Homo sapiens: one gene and its partner. The protein of the gene in region 1 interacts with the protein of each later gene in a biochemical or structural test. Each region holds a gene or a part of one and is shown on either strand. Other genes may lie near its edges. The genes, in order: ADRA2A and PPP1R9B.

Region 1 (15,597 bases):
TTGTTATGGCAGCCTTAGCCAATGAGTATGCTAAATATTTCCCATTTCTGTTGTTACTCCCTCATTCCTGAGGTCTCAAGCTTCCCTCTTATTTTTCCCTTCAGACTGAGCAACTTCCTTTAGTGTTTCTATTGATTTATCTTCAGATTCACTGAATTTTTCCTCTGTCTTCTCTGTTTTTGCTACTGAGCCTGTAATGGGTTGAATAGTGTTCCCCACAAACTCATGTTGAACCAGAGCCTTAGAATATGACTTTATTTGGAAATAGGATCTTTGCAGATGTAATTAGTTACGGATCTCAAGATGAAATCATCCTGGATTTAGGGTGGGTTCTACATCCAGTGACTTTTTGTCTTTATAAGGAAAGAAGAGGGAGATTTGGATAGGAAAAGCATAGAAGGAAGAAGGCCATGTAAAGATGGAGACAGATATTGGACTGATGCTGCCACAAGCCAAGGAATGCAAAAAGCCACAAGGAGCTGGAAGAGGGAAGGAAGAATTCTGCCTTAGAACTTTCGAAGGGCATGTGACCCCACTGATACCTTGATTTCAGACCTCTAGCCTCCAAGGCTGTGGGAGAATATGTGTCTATTATTTTAAGCCACTCAGTTTGTGGTAATTTGTTACAGCATCCCTAGGAGACCCATACAGAGCCTTTCCAGTGAGATTTAATTTTTTGAATGAATTTTTTAGTTTTAAGATTTGGCATTCAGTTCTTCTTTAGCATGTCTATTTCAGAGAACTTCTATCTTTTAAATTACTTAATGAATACTTACCTTTACCTCTTGCAACCTGGTTATAATAGTTACTTTAAACTCTGTCAGATAATTAATTCTAACATCTCAAGTTAAACATCTGTTCATCATTTCTCCCTTCCCAGCATTTAGCTGGATCTTTGTATGTTGAGCAATTCTGGATTCTGTCTTGGACATTATGATTATTACTCTTGGTCCTGTGAAAATCTGTTTGGTTTATGTTCACAGGAAATCAACCTAGTAGTTGGTTTCAAATCACAGGTCTCATCTCCCCTTCTGTAACCAGTGTTTTGATGTTGGGGGTATGAACCTTGGCAGGATCCTGCCTGCCATTGGTCACACGCATGCACAGGTCACAGGTGGGCCTGGGACTTACACCTGATCAGACACAAGGCTTAGAGGATTCCCTTCTCCAGCTCTTTTCTCTTTGGGTTCCCGTATGTAATCTTGGTCTCCCAGGGACCCATTGTCCCATTCCTCTGGACAGAAAGATAGGTTTCTTTTAGAGTTTTAGTTACCCATGATCCTGCCACCAGTTCTGCATGACTGATTCAGTCCCTGGGCAGAGTGGTAAGGTAAAAGAGCAAAAAAAAAGACAGTAAGAGTCCTGAAATCCCTCCCCGGCTCTGCCCTTTAGAGCACAGGGTCTTTCTTTCCCTGTTCCTACTGCCAGAAAAGACCTTTTTTTTCCTCCTCAAAGTTGTAGCTGCCTATACGGCTACTGCACATTTCCCTATTTGGGGCCACTCTAGTGGCAGGGTGAGGAGAGTAAAAACAAGACAAATAAGAAAAAATGTTCAGAGAGTTTCTCCACATTTCCTAGCTCACAGTGGACCTCTCCACCATTCTCTGTCAAAAGAGGGAGCTTCACCCTCTGAGTTGCTCATACCGGCTGGGGTGCTCAGTTCCACAACTGAGGCCTTCCGTGGATCAAACGTGAGAGACAAAAGAGGAAAAAAATCAATAGGAAACTCTCTCATGAGGCTTTCTTCCTCAATTTTTGTTTTCCCTTTCCACTCTCCCTGTTACTGTCTGCCTTTCAGATAGCTGCTTTTTGAATTTTCCAGATGTTTTAGTTGTGCTGTTTAGTTGGACCGAGAGGCTGTAATAGACTTGCTCCATCTTGCTTGGCATCGGGAGTGGGTCTATCTTTTAAAATTTCTTTTGTTTATCTTTCATTTCTACATGATTGGACAAAGGGGTGCTTCAAAGTCTTGAGTTTAAGCCACGCACAGTGGCGTAGGCCTGTAGACCCAGCTACCTGGGAGGATTGCTTGAGGCCCAGGAGTTTGAGGCCAGCCTGGGCCACATAGCAAGTCTCCATCTCTAAGAAAAGAAGAAGCATAAACTTAGAGTGCCATCATCAACTGAAAATATTTGGTGCTTAAAATCAAAACTGTTATTTAATTTTTTTGAATATATGTAACACTAACAGAAAAGATTCCTCTCAAAGACTTTGCAGTGTATAGAAGTTATTGGAAGTTATGTTTTGATGATTATATGATCATTGTCTAGCATGGAATCTGGCGTATTGAAGATGAAAACTATTTTTATGAAGTTAAGGCTCTAGCATTCATTCTGGTCAAATATTCTGGTTGCACAAAATAGAAAACAACTCCAAGAGGCTGAAGTAAAAGGGGAAGTAGTTGTGTGGGCTCTGAAATCTCATGGAATCCAAGAAAAAGAAGCAAGAGGTTCATCTCAACTTCCTAGCAACAACATTTGGAATTTGGAGTGCTAGGAGAAACCAAGGCAGCTTCTTTCCCATACATACATATATATATATATAATTTTTTTTTTTTGGTGGGGAGGCTTGCATGATTCCTTACATTTATTACTCTCTATTTGCTTAATCCTCTTTCTCCACAAAGTTATCAGCTTCTTAGTGACAGTACTGAGTTACTGCATCCATCTTGCCCAAAGCCAGCTCTGCCTCAGGTTAAAATAAATTTCATTTATGTGAATCAATCCATTTTCTGTTATATTTTAGGCACTTTGGGTTGGCTCGAATTGCAGAAGAAATCACCCTAAAAAACCATTCACCTCTTTATCCTATTCAAGCTTCCATCAGCTTTGAGATTCCAACTCTCTTCTCTTTCTCTAGATTTATTTTTTTATTTTTTATTTTATTTATTTTTTTGAGACAGAGTCTTGCTCTGTTGCCCAGGCTGGAGTGCAGTGGTGCAATCTTGGCTCACTGCAACCTTCGCCTCCCAGGTTCAAGTAATCCTCCCGCCTCAGCCTCTTGAGTAGCTGGGATTACAGGCACACGCCACCTTTCCCAGCTAATTTTTGTATTTTTAGTAGAGAAAGGGTTTCACCGTGTTGGCCAGGCTGGTCTGAGCACCAATTAAACCCAACACTGTCTTATGTATTTTCCATGTATTCACACATTTAATCTTTGAGGATATGCATGAGATATGTGAAATTATTTCCCCTTTTTCCATATGAGGAAACTGAAGTCTAGAGAAGTTAAGTAAATATAGTTATGAAATGGCAGAAGCAGGACCAGAACTCAGGTTTCTCTTACTCTAAAGCCTAAATTCTTAACGACTTCACTTGAATGCCTCCCAGAAACTATCAGGCCGTGGTCCTTTTACCAAGGAAGAGTTTGTGCTTTGTGTTATCAATTAGGAAAAATGGGGAAAAAAAGATCATTTCCAGGGAGCAGTGAGAGCCAGACCATCTCTTAAATATGTCTGTGTGCATGTGTGTGTGTGTGTGTGTGTGTGTGTGCATGGGTGTATATGCTTCAGGCGTGGCGTCTCCATGGTTTCTTTGAGTAAATGTGAAAGGTGATTTACCTTACCTAATTAGATTAATGGAATATTAGCTTAAGAGTTATTAATGTTGGTGACAAATATCTCCTTCATACCCAGTGGCTCTAGCTCACCTGTTATACCTGAGAACAAGTAAGCATTGCTCACCATAACTGTTTCAAGGTTTGCTTTTGCTCATGCTTCTGGACAAAGCAGACAAGATAATTCACCTGGATGTGGTGGAAAAGGTCACTGCTTTGTGAGGACTGACTTGGAAGACTGTGGTAGGTGATGTTAAACTTTGTGTGTACACACAAGCTCTCAAAAGTCACATTGTAGTGGCAACACAAACATGCCCTGCAGGGTGGCACACCAGCGAAGAGCCAGCTGGGAGCCCAATCTTTCTTGGCATCCTCAAGGTTGAGTTGATCCTAGTACCAAGTGCTGTCTTTTTGGTATTGGCCAGAAGCCCTTGCAGAGATAGAAAACACCTGGCTTAATTTTCCAGGCTGGGGCAGGATGGGTTAGCACGTTAGAAAGAGATAAAGGCGATGGCAGGACTCATCGCTTGTTTTTGTGAATACAGCAAGACTGATCCAGCAGTCAAATGATGAACATGGTAGGTGGTGAATAAGGCAGCTCCTTACAGCACCCCTGGAGTTGATGCTTTTCTTTTGGCTTCCATTAACCTTCAATAACGATGGGATTCCCAAGGGCTTCAGCACAGGTACAAAGAAGTGGAGGAATTAAGTAATAGCTTAGAGGAAGCAATAGAGTTTTCCCTATTGACTCCCCCCTTCCCCTTGTCAGCAATACAGTGAGTTGACAGATGATTGTAGCTTACTGCAGCATTTGGTTCCAGCTGTGCACACGGCATGAGTAGTAGCGGGAACATTGCATTCCCCACCTGTTCATCATGTTCAGACTAGCAAGTGTGTGTTTAAGTTCAGGCTGTGGTGGGGGCAGGGGTGGGTGGGTGGGGGGGTGGCCTGTGTTTATGTGTGTGTGTGACCAAATTGCTTCTATCTGTGAGGATTTTGTCACAGCCTAGGAGTCCAGGCTAAATGAGTCATGTTTTCTTTTTCTTAGACAGTCAAGTCTTTTTTTTTCAAAAAGTAAGCAATTAATATTCTCTCCCAGCCAGCTCCCTCACTTTTGTTAGATGAAGTCACCATCAAAGACATAGAAGCCAAGACAAATTTTGGTATTGCCTGATACTTTAGTTTCAGATATAACATGAGGACAGATGATTTATCTTAAGAAGCTTTCTTTTATTGGCAAATTACCTAGCTGATAGTTATAAATTTATCTTCCTCTACTTACATATTCCTTTTAGGAAAAAAGAGAATGAGAGAATCCTATACTTATATCCTTGAACTAGTTAAGCTACCTCAACTATTAAGAAATCCTGATTTTGGAATAAAATGCTAGCCATCGTAGTCACCAACTTCACCAACTTCTGGGCCCCTCTTGCCTCTTTGATAGCTTCAGTGTAAGTAGAATTCATTCATTCATACATTCATCCATCACACATTTATCAAGTATCCATGCTCTGTGTGTTATATTTTGGTATTTATTGAATTACTCATGCACTTGTTAAAAATGCAAACACCCAGGCCCCGCCTTCATCCTACTGAATCAGAATCTCCAAGGAGTAGGTACTAGAAATATGATTTTTAAAAAGCCTGTTTTAGAGATGCTCTAGGAATAGAGATGAAAAGGACAGTCCTTTCTACCTGCTAGATCATCATACAAATGAATAGATAAGCTAGAGCAAGAAAAGTCCATCTAAGCCATGATAAAATATGTATGGCACCCATGAGAGAGAGAGGTTGCTTCTACTAGGAGGAGGAGGGGTTGCCTAACCAGTTGGTGTAGTGCTTGCTCTCCATCAGCTTGGCTGTTGGGGAATGGTCAGTCTCCTAGAGTGTATGTGACGTTGCCTCCAAGAGTGGGCATTAGATACAGAAAGAGGGAATACATCTTGCCTTGTACTGTCCTAATCTAGTAGACATCAATGGACTGAAAGGACAGGGCTAGAAGGAGGATGTGCTAACTTGTCAATGTGCTCATTTCTGATGAACATTTTGCAGGTTTCTCTTTGGCAGTGCGATCAAGGCTGGAGATTCACAGTAAGGAACTTAGAAAGCTCATTGGGCTTACCACCAGGAAAAATAGAGTTCGGCTCTGTCCTTGCCACTTATTAGCTGGACAGTTTACTTAGTCTGTTGCCTAGTTTCCTCCATCTACAAAGGCAGATAATAAAATCTACATTATGGGATTGTTTTGGGAATTATATAATATATAGTACATAAACTGCTTGGCATTGTGCCTAGCATGTGGTTGGTGCTAATAGGTACTATTTATTTTTAGTAATAATATAAGTAATAATGGACCCCCATTTGGGTCCCCAGAAATGACTCCTTCTCAGGCCATCAAACCCAAACTCCATATTTACAGTGGCTCTCAACTATTTGCTCTGTCCCAGCTCCCTGGAGGGCTATGACACTGTCATAGCAGTCTCACTGGCTCAGGGCAGTGATTCTCAATCTGGGGCCCACTCTTTCTAGCTCAAGTTGGCTTCCTACCCCGGGTAATTTGGACACTGCCTCCTGTCCCCACAAGGGCACTTGCTCATCACTCCTGTCCCCCACTGAGATTTATTGCTTTGGGTGGTAAGTCTTCAGCAGGGTGTGCACACCTGCAGCTCTCAAGGAGTTTTGTCAAAATACACATGCTGCATCCCACCTTGGACCTGGTGAATAATTTCCCTGGTGGGGCATTGGTAAGTGTATTTTGTCTTCCTAGGAAATGCTGATCTATAGGCCTGGTTGAGAATTATTATATTTGTGGATATCTTTCTGCTCAGCAATGTCTCACTCAGCTTGCACAGCATGAAATCTTCTAGCAAAAATTAATGGTGTCCACATAGCTTTTCAAAGCTCAGAGATACTGACCCTGTGTGACAAACTGAGGAGGCAGAACCTTTGGTGATAAGGAACATGTGACAGGAATAAGAACTCTGTGTATAAAGGGGCCATGTATATCACCCTACACATGGTGCATACATCATGGTACTTAATAAAATGCAGCACTTGTTATTATTGGTATTCGTTGTGTATTGGCCTCAGGGTTCCTGGCTCTGAAAAGACCTGTTCCCATTTTAGGAGAAAAGACTCCAAATCAGGGAATTAAGAAACCACCTGGCTGTTTGGGAAGCATTTAGAAAATATGACAAGAGGTGTCATACACAGGCTAGCAGCAGAAATTTCAAGAAAGATAATTACTGTAAACTTTGTTTTTATTTCCTCTTTTGATTCTGAAATTAGGAAGAAGAGCAGTGTGTTGGAAGCTGGGGTGCAGATGGTAAGTGATGGTCTCCTAAGACTCAGTTCCCGAGTTCTACAAACAGCAACACAGCAAACCCCAGATTGCCACGGGCTCTGATTTTTGTCTCTTAGTATTCATACTTGAAGTGTGGGGTTCCTAGTTGCTGTGCAAAAATGACTGTAGCCATGTTTCCAACTGAGCCTACTGGCGATGTCCAAAGCCCCTGCCAAGAGCCTCAGAGCAGAGACTTTAGTAGAAGATGGAAAATGAGTGACTCAACAGAGCGAGGAAATTGTCTTCTCAGCTTCCTTTAGATTGTCCAGAAAGGGAGATTAGAAAGGCTCCTCAGAACTAACACTGGAAAGGGAGTTTATACCATTAGGGCAAAGATTGGGAGACAAAGGTACTGAAGTCAAATGAGACTTCTGTGAAATACTTTGGAAAGTACAGATTTTGAGACTACATGAACAGCAGCAGCACCAATAACTGTATCACTGGTGCGGGCTATAGACATCAGCTGGGAATGAAGGTGATTCTCAGGGCCCTTAATTTAGCCATCAGCCCCCAGCCAGACCTAAGCCTGCAGCTGGCTGCACAGAGAGGCAGCCTGTTCCATCCTTGGAATTCCAACTTAGGTGACTGCACAAGGCATTTTGGTTTAGTGGTTCCTTAAATAAGACGACATTCCTTTAAGTCTAATCTCTCTCCTGCTGAAATTTCCTACCCTCTTGGGTTTTACCATTAAACTGCTTGCTCTCATCTGAAAAGTGCAGCTAGCAGGGTGCAAGCTAGTGCTCTAGTGACCGTTAAAATCTATCCTAGGACAGCTAGCACGCACGGAAAAACTTGCCATTCGCCGCACACCCACTCCCCCCCGCCCCCACCGCTATTCTTATCAGAGAGAACATGGAAAATATTCTACTCCCTCTTCCCCTTATTGAAGGATGCTGTGTGTACATCTGAATGGGGGTGGGATGCGGGGCGGGAGTGGAGTCTAGCTTTCGGTCCTCAACAAAAACATAATGATTCCCAGCAAGCCAGAGCTGTGCAACCAAGGAGGCAGGATCCTGGCCTCTCTCGGATCTGCAGGAAGGGTGGGCTGTGCGGGTCCAGAGTGGGATGCCCGTTCTGGCCGGCGGTGCCTGCTGAGCCCTTCCTGATGTGACTTTATTAGACAAACCCCCACTCCCGCCAGGGGTAGACACACGAGTATCTGCTTTAGGAAGATTTCTGCAACACGGCAGGGTGCAATTCAAACTCTGGGTTCTCCTTTCCTGAGCTTAGAAACCAATTTGTTCGGAGATAGGAGAAGGCTCTGTTGGCAGAAGACCTAAGAGACGGGAGGAGGCGCCTGGCGTCAGCGGGTCGCTTCTCAGCCGTGACCACGAGCGGCCAGCAGGTGTCAGTGCGTCCTCGCTTTGCCCTGGCGCTCGGCTCCTGGACCCCTCCCCACCTCGGTCTAAGGGGGCGCGGTCCAGACCCCGGGTCTTGCGTTTCCCGCAGACAGCATCGCGGCTGGGAGGACACGTAGCCGCTTCTTCCCTAAGCGGAGGTCTGAACTCCGGCTTGTACCACTTCCCCGTGGGTGCTGTCCATTCCGCCCCAGGGGTTCCATCCGAAGCCGCGCCTTCCTCCCTCTCCAGGACCCCTTTCTCCCCAGCCTCCAGGAGCACCTGCGGACCGCGTCGGCTCTGGCCCGGAGCTGGGCTGCTCCAGACGTAACTCACACCGGAGGTTACTTCCCTCGATTTGGGCGGGGATTCCCTTCCATTTTTTTCTTCCCTTTTCTCCCAAGATCCAGCTTCTTGGGGGCACTCACGGGTGCCCGTTGCGTTCTGCTCCGTCGGCCCGGAGCTGCATGGCCAACTCCCAGCAGGGGCCGCTCCTCCCCTACCCCCCACCCCCGGGCTCCCTCTTTAAGTCTCTAGCTCAAGGTACCCGCCTCTCCAAAGGGCTCGTCCCGCCTGAGGGCAACGCTCCCCGAGGTCCAGCGCTAGGCGCGGGCGCTAGACTGGCGGAGGGGTGGTGCGAGGGGCGGGGGAGGGTCGGCTTCCCACGTGGGGGCTGACGCCGGCTGCTCAGCAACGCTTGCTTGATCCTGGGGCTATAAAACGAGTCCACCGTGAGCGCAGCGGAGCAGCAGCAGCTCCAGCTCGGTGCAGAAGCCCAGCAGCCGGCGTGCCGCCGCCCGGCCACTCCAGCGCCTTCTTCCCCGCCTTGCGCTCCTGCCCCAACTCGCGCTGTCGTCGGACCCCGGCCCATCCAGCAGCGCTCGGCGCCCACCAGGCGGACGCCCAGGAGAACCCCTGCCTCCGTCGCGGCTCCTGGAGAGCTGATCGTTCACCTGCCCCGGCCCGCCTGAGGACGGGGGTGCCTTCATGCGGCCCCCACACTCCTCACCCCGCCGCCGCCGCCGTCCCGGAGCTCCGCACAGTGTGCCCCAGCCCCAGCAGGGCGCACAACTTTGGAAGTCTCGCGGCGCTCCGAGAGGCGGCAGAGTCCGCGCCCCAGCCCCGGGCCGGGCCGGGCCAGAACCGCAGCGTCTGGGGGAAGCCAGAGAGTCGGTAATCGCTTCGGGGATGTAAGGCGACAGACATAGGACCCCCGAGCTCGCATCAGCACCCTTCGGCTGCCTCCCGGGGTGGGGGCGGGCCCCGCACACGGTAAGACCTCTTGCTTTCGCTCAGGCTCAAGATTCAAGATACAGATATTGATATGTATATATATATTTAATTTCCTGTCATCCTTCCAAGTTATCAGGCCACCGATGATTTTTGTTCTCCCTTCTTGAAGAATAAATCTCTCTTTACCCATCGGCTCTCCCTACTCTCTCCCGCCGCTTAGAAATAAAACTTGGCTGTATTAGGAGCTCGGAGCAAGAAGGCGCCCACCGAGAGCGTCTGAAGCGCGAGCCAGGCGCAGTTCGCGGGACCCGGGCCATGGGCCGCTAGCGGTCCTCCAGTTCGGGCCCGGCCTCCCTGCGGCCCCCTCCCTATGTGAGCCGCAGCCAGGCGAGCGGGGCGCCGGAGGAAGAGGAGGACCCACGGGCGCCGGGCCGGAAGGCAGCTGGCAGCAGGCCCAGGCCAGCGGGCGCCCGCGTTCATGTTCCGCCAGGAGCAGCCGTTGGCCGAGGGCAGCTTTGCGCCCATGGGCTCCCTGCAGCCGGACGCGGGCAACGCGAGCTGGAACGGGACCGAGGCGCCGGGGGGCGGCGCCCGGGCCACCCCTTACTCCCTGCAGGTGACGCTGACGCTGGTGTGCCTGGCCGGCCTGCTCATGCTGCTCACCGTGTTCGGCAACGTGCTCGTCATCATCGCCGTGTTCACGAGCCGCGCGCTCAAGGCGCCCCAAAACCTCTTCCTGGTGTCTCTGGCCTCGGCCGACATCCTGGTGGCCACGCTCGTCATCCCTTTCTCGCTGGCCAACGAGGTCATGGGCTACTGGTACTTCGGCAAGGCTTGGTGCGAGATCTACCTGGCGCTCGACGTGCTCTTCTGCACGTCGTCCATCGTGCACCTGTGCGCCATCAGCCTGGACCGCTACTGGTCCATCACACAGGCCATCGAGTACAACCTGAAGCGCACGCCGCGCCGCATCAAGGCCATCATCATCACCGTGTGGGTCATCTCGGCCGTCATCTCCTTCCCGCCGCTCATCTCCATCGAGAAGAAGGGCGGCGGCGGCGGCCCGCAGCCGGCCGAGCCGCGCTGCGAGATCAACGACCAGAAGTGGTACGTCATCTCGTCGTGCATCGGCTCCTTCTTCGCTCCCTGCCTCATCATGATCCTGGTCTACGTGCGCATCTACCAGATCGCCAAGCGTCGCACCCGCGTGCCACCCAGCCGCCGGGGTCCGGACGCCGTCGCCGCGCCGCCGGGGGGCACCGAGCGCAGGCCCAACGGTCTGGGCCCCGAGCGCAGCGCGGGCCCGGGGGGCGCAGAGGCCGAACCGCTGCCCACCCAGCTCAACGGCGCCCCTGGCGAGCCCGCGCCGGCCGGGCCGCGCGACACCGACGCGCTGGACCTGGAGGAGAGCTCGTCTTCCGACCACGCCGAGCGGCCTCCAGGGCCCCGCAGACCCGAGCGCGGTCCCCGGGGCAAAGGCAAGGCCCGAGCGAGCCAGGTGAAGCCGGGCGACAGCCTGCCGCGGCGCGGGCCGGGGGCGACGGGGATCGGGACGCCGGCTGCAGGGCCGGGGGAGGAGCGCGTCGGGGCTGCCAAGGCGTCGCGCTGGCGCGGGCGGCAGAACCGCGAGAAGCGCTTCACGTTCGTGCTGGCCGTGGTCATCGGAGTGTTCGTGGTGTGCTGGTTCCCCTTCTTCTTCACCTACACGCTCACGGCCGTCGGGTGCTCCGTGCCACGCACGCTCTTCAAATTCTTCTTCTGGTTCGGCTACTGCAACAGCTCGTTGAACCCGGTCATCTACACCATCTTCAACCACGATTTCCGCCGCGCCTTCAAGAAGATCCTCTGTCGGGGGGACAGGAAGCGGATCGTGTGAGGTTTCCGCTGGCGCCCGCGTAGACTCACGCTGACTGCAGGCAGCGGGGGGCATCGAGGGGTGCTTAGCCCCAGGGCACTCAGAAACCCGGGCGCTGCCTGCTCTGCGTTTCCTCGTCTGGGGTGGCTCTGCAGCCTCCTGCGGGCGGGCGTCTGCTGCTCCTACAAGGGAAGCTTCTTGCTGCCAGGCCCACACATCCCCAGTTGTTGGTTTGGCCACTCTTGACCTGGAGCCATCTTCCTAGTGGGCCACCCCTAATCACTATTGCTTCCTAAAGGTATTTTCACCCTCTTCGCCTGGTACAGCCCTCACAGCTCTTCAGAGCAAGCACTGGACTACAAGGGCATGGCTCACAAAAGGTTAATGGATGGGGGTTACCTAGCCCTGGCTAATTCCCCTTCCATTCCCAACTCTCTCTCTCTTTTTAAAGAAAAATGCTAAGGGCAGCCCTGCCTGCCCTCCCCATCCCCCGCTGTAAATATACACTATTTTTGATAGCACACATGGGGCCCCCATATCTCTTGGCCTTGGTTTTGATGTTGAAATCCTGGCCTTGGGAGAGATGCCTTCCAGGCAGACACAGCTGTCTGGTTCAGGCCAAGCCCCTTTGCAATGCAAGCCCTTTCTGGTGTTATGAAGTCCCTCTATGTCGTCGTTTTCACCAGCAACTGGTGACTGTCCCTTCGACACGGACCTGCTTTGAGATTTCCTGACAGGGAAAAGATTTCTGTCCATTTTTTTCCTGTGCCTAACAGCATAATTGCCTTTTCCTATGTAAATATTATGATGGTGGATCAAGACATAAGTAAATGAGCCTTTCTGCCTCACATCAGCCCTGTGTATAAAGCCATTATTCTCTGATGCACTGTTTGCCCCAGTAACTCACTTTAAAACCTCTCTTTCCAGTGTTCCCTCTCTCCCTCCAGGGCCACTGCTTGAAGAAGAATATGTATGTTTCTATCTTGTATGTCTGTGTGCCCCTCCTGCCCCGAAAGTGCTGACTATGGGGAAATCTTTTAGCTGCTGTTTTTAGACTCCAAGGAGTGGAAATTATGTGGAAGAAGCAAACCTGATACAATTTGCCCAAGGTAAACAGTTTGAAAAGACAAATGGGCCTGCCAAACTGTACAGTTTCTTCCCCAAGAGCTGTTAGGTATCAAAATGTTGTCCTTTCCCCCCTCCGTGCTTTTCTGGTTGAGATCATGTCATTGATGAACTGCCAAAGTCAGGGGAGGAGGGCAGAGACTTTGTGTTTACATCTGCATTTCTACATGTTTTAGACAGAGACAATTTAAGGCCTGCACTCTTATTTCACTAAAGAAAAACTAATGTCAGCACATGTTGCTAATGACAGTGGATTTTTTTTTAAATAAAAAAGTTTACAGATCAAATGTGAAATAAATATGAATGGAGTGGTCCTCTTGTCTGTTATCTGAGTTTTCAAAAGCTTTAAGACTCTGGGAACATCTGATTTTATGGATTTTTTAAAAATAAAAAATGTACATTATAAAAATTTTTTAAACGTTCCATCAGTAACAAAGCTACCATTTACTAAGTGTTTCTGACATGCTAGACACTGTGGTGAACTGGTTGTAGGCATTGCCTCGTTTACTTTTCTCAAGAACGCTATGAGGTAAGTTTTATTACTATCCCCATTTTACAGGTGAAGAAACTGAGTCTCAGAGCAAGTTTGTTAACCTTGCTCAAGGTTAACAAGTGGTGGAAATGCATCGTACCCAGCTTTATCTGGTTCTAGGGCCTGCACTCTTAACCCCAGAACCTTTCCAGAGTTTTGGCATTAGCCCTTCTCAGAACACTCCCAGTGGAGAGGTGTCTATGCAGTGTGCTATCTATACCAGGTGTGAGATATATCCCAGTATTTAATATACACAAGGTGTATACATACCCCAGTGTCTACATGACCTAATGTGTCTATATACCTCAAAGTGTGTATCTACTCCAAAGTGTGGTATATGCACCAAGTGTGGAATATACTCCAAAATGTATATCACACCTTAAAGCATGATAATATATGACATGTAGCATATACTCCATAGTGTGGTTATGCACTAAGTATGGTCTAAAACCTGAATAGAACCATGTATTAGTTGGTGGTTTGAGTTGTCTCTGGCCAGAAGGCATGCATCCTTCTTGTTGCATTGCTATAATATCAAAGTCTGCTCTGCTGTCTAGGAGGGCTTATGGCCCTCATACTATGGTAATGGCACTTTGAAGCTGGAAGGGGCCTTAGTGATCCAGGAGTCCAACCCCTCATCTGACAGATGAGAAGGCAAATGCAGATGCAAGAGGAAGCGACTTGCTCAGGATCCCAAGGCGCTAGGTGACAGGGCTCTGGCTCCAGGCTGCCCGGGTTAGGGCGCAGCTGAGAGATGTGTAGTAGTAGTTCTGTGTGTGTAGTCAGATGCAGTACTGATGAATAGCCACTTATGGAGGAGGGGGGTTTGAGGGGCAAACACAAGCGTCAGGTTGTGGTTTTGGGGGAGGCCAGCTTTTGTGAGCCCAGTCACCTGTAATATGTGCGGACCAGCTTTGGACACCCCCCAGAAGCAGGTCCTCTGCACCCTCTGGGCCATGCAGCATCTCCTCATCTTCCTTTGCTTCTCTCGTGCAGGAGAGGGTGTCTGTGTATGCAGCAGTGGGAGGGTAGAGAGCCCTGAGAAATGATCTGGGCACTGAGGGGCCTGGGAGAGGGAAGACCATGGCTCTGAGGGGGTGAGGAGTTCCTGCCGTCACCTGGATCCTCTGAGCCGGCACACAGGAGGATGGCCAGGTGCTGGGCTCCAGTGACCCTGGCTCAGAGGCTTCAGAAAACAGCCTCCTGGCCTGTGGTGCCACGGCTGGCTCCCTGGTCTGGTTCTGTGGCCTGCTCCCCATCCCACCCTCACCCCAGCCTCTCCTCTCCCTCCTCACTCCAGTGTACCCATTGCCCCAAAGGCAAACAGTGCCAGACAACAGCCTGCCTGGCGAGCCCCCAGGACCCAGGCTGTGTGTCCCAGCCACAGGAGCAGATACAAATACTGCTTGCTGTTGACTCTCAGCTCTGTCCTGTCTGTCAGGGAAGTGTTTGCCTTGCCTCCACCCGCCGAGGGGGAAGAAGCATGGGCTGAGGTGCTACACGGAGGGGCCTCTGGTGTCATGCTCCCTCCTCCTCGATACAGAAGCAGAGAAACCTCAGAGGTGGATGGAGGTTGCAGAAAGTGGGGGAGAGAGGGCTGGAGCCCAGGCATGGGTGGGTTTCTGAGTTCACAGTAGGAATCACTGTTTATTCATTTGCAAAGGGCTCAAGCAACAGTCTGCCAAGGTGTGGGGTGGGGAGGGAAATTAAGGTGAAATGGCTCCCACAGGGATCTTGGCTTAAAGAGCTAACCCCACATTTTCCTGTGCATAGTATCTGTTCCCGAGTATCTGGGCCAAGAGGGTCTGTCTTCGTGGCCGAATCTCCTGTTTTATGTAACTTTGGTTGGGATATTGAAAGCCATTGGCTTTTGGGTCTGAAGTGTGTCTTGCTAGATTTACTCGTGCAAGTGTGCTGGGTTGGGGGAAGGGTAGTGCCTTCATTTGAGCCTGGGCACAAGCACAGTCTCCTCCTCCCCAAGGCTTTGTTCAATTTCTTCTATGCTAAAAGGCTGGGGGAGAGAATGATGAAAACGTGGCTTGGGCTTTCCCCTGTCTATGACTGTATAATCAAATCAGAGATTTAGAGCCAGAAGCATCCTCATCAATCCTTAACTCTTACCTTGTAGTGGCAGATCAAGGGACCTGAGACCTAGAAAAGCTGTTGGTTATGTAGCATTCCAGGAGCCCCTGAGCCCACTCTTCCATGTGACTCTCCGTCTGATGCCATATGCACCCAACATGAATTCTATTTTGTTTTGGGATGTGGTGAGTTGCTAATCAACCCCAGAGGATCCCCTGTGCCTGCTTTGTGTCAAGGACCATCCTAGGCATTGCAAGGCAGTTCTCTTCCTTCCCTGCATGCACTGTGCAAAGCTCACCACTTGTCCCTGTGGAGTGAGATTAGGGCCTGCCTCTGCCCTCTGGAAGCTTTGGAGCTACATGGGGAGACAGGATGTTCCTGTGAAAAGCACTCATTAGCCACACACAGTGACAGTGTGGCAGTGGGGGAGAGGATGCTGTGTGCCCACCAAGGGTAATAGGCATCTGTACTGTGAGTGAGCAGTGGGGGAGAGGTGGCTGTGGCTGGGAGCTCAGGGCATAGAATGTGGGAGTTG
Region 2 (7,000 bases), on another chromosome or scaffold:
GCATCCTTGATCCCTGCCCACTCCCCACCTCAGTGAATCAAGAAACCAGGCAGCAAGGCTCTGGGGGCTGCTTTTATGGGGACGACCTGACAGAGGGCATGGTCCGTACAAAACCGGGAACAATACATACATATATATATTATATACAGAGATGCGGCCCTCCCGACGGCTGGGCAGGGGTGGCCGCTGGCCCAAGCAGCCCGAAGCGGCCCCGCCCACCCGGTTCCGCCCCCTCCATCTGCCGGGGTGAAGTGCGCGAGCCCAGGACTGAGACAGCCAGCTCCTTCAGGGGATGGGGGCACATCTGGGGATAGGAAGGGGTGGGGACAAGAAATACTGATCGAAGTCATGGTCTATTTACAGGGGACAAGAAGCCAAAACGGATGGGATGGGTGGTCTGTTTTTAAAAAATGAACAAAAACCCAGTTAGGGCAGGGGCATGAAGTGGCAAAATGAGATGGATTTTGAAAGGGGAGGGGACCTGGGGGAGGTGGTCTCACCTCCCTTGGTCCAAGCCCCAATTTGGGGTTAAAGTGGGGAAACAGAGTCGATTTCACTTAGAAGGCAGGCTGCCAGCAGGGCAGCCCTGGTCTCCAAAAAGATGAGTAGTAGTAAAATTTTGCCCTCCAGTCAAAACATTGGAAAACCAGTAGGGGGTGGGGGCGAGGCTGACTCCCTGCAATGTCAGTAGGCTTCCAGGCATCGCCCTGGGCTGGGCAGACAGGGCAGCACAGGATAGGACCTGACTCTCCAGGGAGAAATGTTCCCCTTGCCTAAGACCAGGGTCGCTGTAGCCAGACCCCCTTTCCTCCCTGGCATTCCCAGGCTTGACCAGGAAACCTGGACCCCAGAGAGGCCACATAACAGTTCCAAGACGAGGTTATGGCTATTTGGCACCTGGAAGAGGGGAGGCACAAGGAGAAATTGAGGGCTGCTGCCCCAGGCAATGGGGAGCTGGGGACCAGGTGTCCTGAACTCTCCCTTTTTCCCACTCTCACTCCCCCTTTTCCCGAAGGACACATGAGAAATCAGTGCAGGGCCAGGGCCAGGCCCAGCCTCCGGGCTCTGGGGTGGACTCTATCCCTCCCAGGACAGGGAACAGGGATGGGGGAGGTGTTGAGGCAACGCCCCCACCCCCCAGGCGGGAGGGTCAGAATGCAACAGAGACGGCACAATGATGGGGGGAGAGGGAAGGGCCGAGAAGGTAGAATCTCAAGTCAAGAGGCCCAGGGGCCACCCAGGTGCCCCATGGGCAGGGAGCAGCCCCCAGTTGGCAGATGCTGGGAGAGCCCCAGCCCCGTTCCAGTCCAGAGACAAAAGCTGGAGTGTGTAAAGTCTGGCAGTTTGATCTGCAGGTGCTTGTGTCCGTCGACCACCAGGCCAGCCCTCGGCAGCCCTCGGCCTCTGTGCCTCAGCCCCATGGGGCAAGAAAGAGGCTGCCCTTCTAGCCACCTCTGTCTGCCCAGGCCATCTTAAGGGGGCCTGTGATATGAGCCCTCTGGTCCCTGAAGCTGGGGGAGGTGGGGTGGAGGGGTGGGGGGAGTCGGGGCACCTGTCCCCAGGCTGGAAGGGGGAGGGGTGGGGTGTTGAGGACAGGGGAGGGAGGACAATGGGAGGGGGGTTAATTATTGTCCAGTCATGGAATGATTCCTGTTAAGTAGAATTGGAATTCCTCAGTGTTTGCAAGTTTCCTTCCAGTTCTGAGATCTGGAAAACAAAGGAGGGTAGGGGGTCAGGTCTGGACACCAGGCATGATCCCAGCCCCTTCCGCCCCCCGGTGAGGACATGGCATCCCCTCCCTCCAGGACCCACAGGGTAGGGGCTTCAATGCTGCTCCCTCCACTGGGCCCTGCCCACAGGGCGCCCCAGGCCCACCTTGTCCAGGAGCTTGTCCATCTCCTCCTTTCTGGCCAGCTCCGACTCCTCCAGAACCCGACGCTGTGCAGTCTCCTTTTTCAGGAACTCGATCTCCCTGGGCACAGGCAAGGGACAGATGGCAGGTAAGGGTGTGTGGTCTGGCTTTCATCCAGGGTGACCCAGGTCCTCAGCTTTACCTGGGCAACTCTGTCCTTCCCTGTTCTCAGGTCAGGAGGCCCCAGGTTTTCCCAAAGCCTCTGGGGGTCTGGCTCTGTGCTGGCTCTGATGCCTGGTCATTCCGGACCGGGTGTCCCCACCATGGGGCCCTCCAACTTCTGTGCCTCCCTACTCAGCTGGAGGGATGGGGAGGGACTGTCCCCAAAAGCCTCTCAATGCTCCCTGGGCCCAGCCCGCCCAGCCCCCAGCCACGTACTTCTGCTGGTAGTCCTTGATGAGGCGCTTGGCCTTGCTGTACTTGCGCTCCAGGGCCTGGTACTGCGCCTGAGTCTCCCGCAGGTGCTCGTCCACAGCCTGGCACAGGCTCTGGGCCTCACCCCAGTAGCCTTCCAGTTTCTCCATGCGCTCCTTGTTCTCCTCCACACTCTGCTCCAACTGCGCCTTCTCCACCCGCCAGCGCCCCTTCTCCTGCTCCAGGCTCTGCAGCTGAGAGAGAAAGGCACGGCCCTGGGTTGGTGGGGGCCAGCAGGAGCCAAAGGGTACCCCCATCCTAGCACTGGGGCCAGAGTCGCCAGGGGATTCCTACCGTTGTGGAGTCCATTGCACCCCAACTACTAACCCTCTTTGGCTGAGCCTGAGAACTGAAACCCAGAGAGGAAAGAAGTAGAGCTCAGCCTCAGAGCTCCCACCAGACTCCCTGTCACTGCACCCCACTCGCAGGGAGGCTGGAGGCTTCGGTTAGTCACTGATACTCTGACTTGGCGCAATGCAACTAATGTCCCAAGCCTCAGTTATCCCATCTGTAAAATGGCAGTGATATGTGCCTCCCAATCTCACAAAAGCTCCAGTGAGACAGTACATGTGAAGTAAAAGGGCAGATGAGGGTCACCATTACTCTCTGTCCCCTCTCTGCAGCCCCAGCCCTGCTCGCCAGTCTCTGCACTTGTGGCTTCCTGAACAATCCTGGTTCTCTCCCAGCTTCCAGGTGACCCCAGCGCAGACCTCCAGTCCCCCACAGCTCAGTTCCGGATCCTCTGTTCTCTCTATACTCACTGCCCTGGGGCACCGGCCCATCTCCCACACTACCTCTGTGCACTCTGAGCTGCAAATCTCAAGTCCCAGCCCACCCTTGCTCCCAACTCCCAGCTTTAGCTCCCAGCTCCTCCCAGGTACCATGCCCCAGACCAGGCCCCCGCAGCTGCACAAACCTATGCCTCCTTTCCTGACTTGCTCTGTTAAAAGGCGCCACAACCTCATAGCCATGTTGGCACTCAGTCTCAGGCCAGTATTTGCTGCAAACATCCCTTGCTCTCTGTCCCCCAGCCACACAGGCCTTCCTGCAGATCCTCAGACTTGCCACAGGGCCTTTACGTGTGCTGTCCCCTCTGCCTGGAATGTCCCCCATCTACCCTCCTGCTTGCCTAGTTATTTCCCTCTAGCTCACCCTTCAGCTCTCTGCTGTGTGTCACTTCTCCAAAAAAGCCCCCACAGCTCCCTCCAACAGCACAGCCCTACTCCCACCTCCACCCGAATCAGGTTCCTCCTGCTTTAGCAGCTCAGTAAGCCTGTTCTCTCCTACAGAGCCCCATGCCAGCGTGTGATGATGACACAGTCACTGGTTTGCAGATGCACAAGAACAACGATCAACTATGGCTTTGCCCATCATGGTGATGAGAACAATACTGGACATCTAGAAGGTACCCAGAGGATGTCTGTAAGTAGAATGCACTAACAGACCTTTGGCGTGCCCCTCCCTTTCATACTCTGCATACACCTCAGGAACATGGCCTGTCACTCTGACCCCGGAAATGCAGCGCTCACCTACCCTTCCTTTCCAGACCCTCTGCCTATACTCTGAGCAGTCCTGGCCTACCCCTGCCAGGACACTGTCTGGGCCCCTAACCAGTTTGCCTGCCTCCCAGCACTGCCCACTTTCATGCCCTCCCACTTTGTAGGCAGTGGCTTTCCGAAAAATCCCAATGGCCACATACCCCATGCTATCTGTAGGACCAAGGCCAGAGTCTTTAGAGGGGAGGCAGGATACTGCAAGCCAGAGCCCATCCTGGCAGTCCAGCCCTGCCTCCACCTCTCCCCGACAGGCATGCTGCCACCTCCTGACTGGCCTCCCCTCAAAGCCAGACTCCAAGCTCCATGGAGCTCCTCTCCCTGCCAGGAATGCCCCTGCTTCTGCCCCAGCCATCCAAACCCTGGCCTCCTCTCCTGCATACCCCCATGTGGGAGGGTACACACACTCCCATGTCTGCAAGACCCCTATAGATCTGTCTCTCCCCACCACGGCAGAAGCCCCATAGGTACTGGGACTCCTATAGTCTAGGTCCCAGCAGAGGCCCCATACAGACTTTTAATATGAAGTCTGTATATCTGCATGCCTGTGAGGGTGCTGGCACCTGACATGCTTGTGTAAGCATCTGTGTATACTACGTGTGTGTGTGTGTGTGTGTGTGTGTGTGTGTGTGTGTGTGTGCCACGTGTCTCCATCTGGGGTCGGCATCAGCACCTCTGTGTTACTTGCCCAGATGAGAATATGCATGCCCTGTGACACTCTTCCTAGACCAGGTGGTCTGATCGATGGCCATGCCTGTGTGTTTCAGAGCAGATGGGTGCAGAGTGGGTCTGCATATCCAGGCTGATAGCCTCGAGTGTAATGTGAAGCACAGGTCCATTGTCTCTGTGACTGTGTCTGTGTAGAGTGGGTGTCTCTATGTGTCTGGGTGAGGGGGTCTGTGGGTACTATGTGCCTGGGGCCAGGCTGCTGTGTCAGTGTGTGTACTTCTGGGTGGTCTGTACTTATCAATGGGCCTATATATAGCAGACATATGTGGGACAGCACAAACATAGAGACACCTAGAGCAGAACTTAGCATGCTTCGGTATCACAGCTAATATACTGACTTTTTTTTCTTTTGACACATGGTCTCATTCTGTTACTCAGGCTGGAGTGGAGTGCAGTGGCACAATCACGGCTCACTGCAGCCTCGACCTACCCTGGCCCAAATGATCGTCCCACCTCAGCCACCCAAGTAGCTGGGATCACTGGTGTGCGCTACCACACCTGGCTAATTTTTGTATTGTTTGTAGAGATAGGTTTTCGCCATGTTGCCCAGGCTGGTCTCTAACTCCTGGCTGAAGCAGTCTGCCTTGGCCTCCCAAAGTGCTGAGATTACAGGCATGAGCCACTGCGCTCAGCCTACTTTGACTTTTTATTGAGCTCCTATTATGTCACACATTGTGCTAAAGACTTGACGTGTGTTATCTCATTTAATCCCACAACGATCCTGTGGTGTTGGTGCTATTACGACCTCATTTTATAGATGAGGAGGCTGAGGCACAGAGAAGCAAGTGATGCTGGAGCAGATGGATCCAGAGCTTAAGCTCTTAATATCGTATCTATCATATCATCTTGCTTTAGAGCAGCTTGTTCTGTGGGTACCTGTGCCTAAGTGTCAGCATGTGCAGGTGTGAGGGTAGGGGGACCCTGCTCCTCAACACACACATGCACGCACGCAAAAGCACACACATACGCACCCTTACCTTTCTTTTCAGCTGCTGGATCTCTGCCTCAGTGACCGCATGCTTGATCTGGAGCTGTTGGGCAGAGGGGCAGGCACTCAGCTCCAGCAGGGTGGGGCAGGCAGTGCCAAGGGCAGGAGACCTGCCTGCCTTTCCCTCCACCACTCCAGGGAGCCCCTCCTCCCACCTCCTTGAACTTGTGCACCAGCTTCTCGGGCTCCATGTCCACAGGGGACAGTGCATCCTCGTTCTCCGCTAGCTCAAACACCTCGATGGCCATCTCACCACCCGGGAACGTGGGGCTCAGCTCCTCATCCTCGTCAGTGGCATACTCTCCCGTCTGCGAAGGGAGACCGGAGACTGTGGGCCCACCCCACCCAGCTGCCCTCAGCCCTGATGACCAGGGCTGGGACCAGTTGCCCATGCCAGACAGAGAGCTACCCAGGAATGTGGTTCATGCCTCCCACTTCAGCCTGAGGCTGGACCAGAGACACGGTTTATGTCTTCCCCCAACAGCCTGGTAGTCCCCTGATGACAGAGGGGGTCAGTTCCTCATCAGCCTGGGTCTCTGAAGAAACAGCCTGTACTATCTTTCCCCTTCTGGATCTATCTCCCTTTCAGATTAGGTCCCCCAAGATTAGGGGCTATGCTCTCCCCGCAGACTGGGGGCTCTTTGAGAGGACTGTGTATTCCTTGTCCGGCCTCTGAAGACAAAGAGTGTGACTGGAGGACAGGGAATGGCACTGTGGGCTTTTTACTAGGGCAGGGGAAGCAGTAGAGGCAGATGACTGTAATGCTTCATCTAGCCACCAGGGGGCGACCACGCGGCCAGCCAGGCAGGGACTCCCTACCTCCTCGTCATCCTCCCCATACTGGGCGTATCTCTGCTCCATCATCTCCCGCTGCCATCGCTCCTGTTCCAAAGTCTGCTGAATTAGCTGGGCCACTTCGCTCTGCTCTCCCGGCCGCTCCCGGCCAATCATAAACCTGCAGGGGCACCGGCATCATCCGCTGCCTCTGTCCTCAGCCAGGTAATGCATCATCCTCCCTGCTGATGCTCCCCTCTCCAAACTCAGGCCCTCCCAGGGGAGGAGAGATGAGAGGGCTGAGTCCGAAGGCTGCAGTGTTAATAATGAATGGGGGAATGAGGGCCCTTATCAGGTTTCCTTCCCAAGGGAGGCAGGAAGGCCCATTCACCCCTCTGGCCAGTATTGCGGGAGGGAGAATGTCAGCCCACCTCTAGGCTGTGCTGCAGGGGACATGCACTGAGGAGGCTCTTCCCCTGCCACAGGGGAGAAAATGAGGCAGGGAAAGGTGAAGATGACCCTCCCAGCAGGGATGGGCTGCGGAGGTGTTTCTTGGGTATGCTCCAAGCCCCTGAGCTTCAGGAAGGGGCGGGATGATGGCAACTGGAGATTAGGATGGAGAGGAAATAG

Evidence for each region.
Region 2: the proteins of ADRA2A (region 1) and PPP1R9B form a complex in vitro, tested with the Homo sapiens proteins (one study listed by BioGRID).

What each region holds. Positions count from the first base shown.
Region 1 is NC_000010.11:111,068,051-111,083,647, forward strand, and holds ADRA2A (alpha-2A adrenergic receptor), read left to right. Parts: upstream 1-8,978; 5' UTR 8,979-9,946; coding exon 9,947-11,344; 3' UTR 11,345-12,857; downstream 12,858-15,597. UniProt on the Homo sapiens protein: Alpha-2 adrenergic receptors mediate the catecholamine-induced inhibition of adenylate cyclase through the action of G proteins.
Region 2 is NC_000017.11:50,133,678-50,140,677, forward strand, and holds the end of PPP1R9B (neurabin-2), read right to left. Parts: intron 6,552-7,000; coding exon 6,416-6,551; intron 5,905-6,415; coding exon 5,752-5,904; intron 5,640-5,751; coding exon 5,586-5,639; intron 2,521-5,585; coding exon 2,291-2,520; intron 1,973-2,290; coding exon 1,876-1,972; intron 1,708-1,875; coding exon 1,654-1,707; 3' UTR 60-1,653; downstream 1-59. UniProt on the Homo sapiens protein: Seems to act as a scaffold protein in multiple signaling pathways. Modulates excitatory synaptic transmission and dendritic spine morphology. Binds to actin filaments (F-actin) and shows cross-linking activity. Binds along the sides of the F-actin.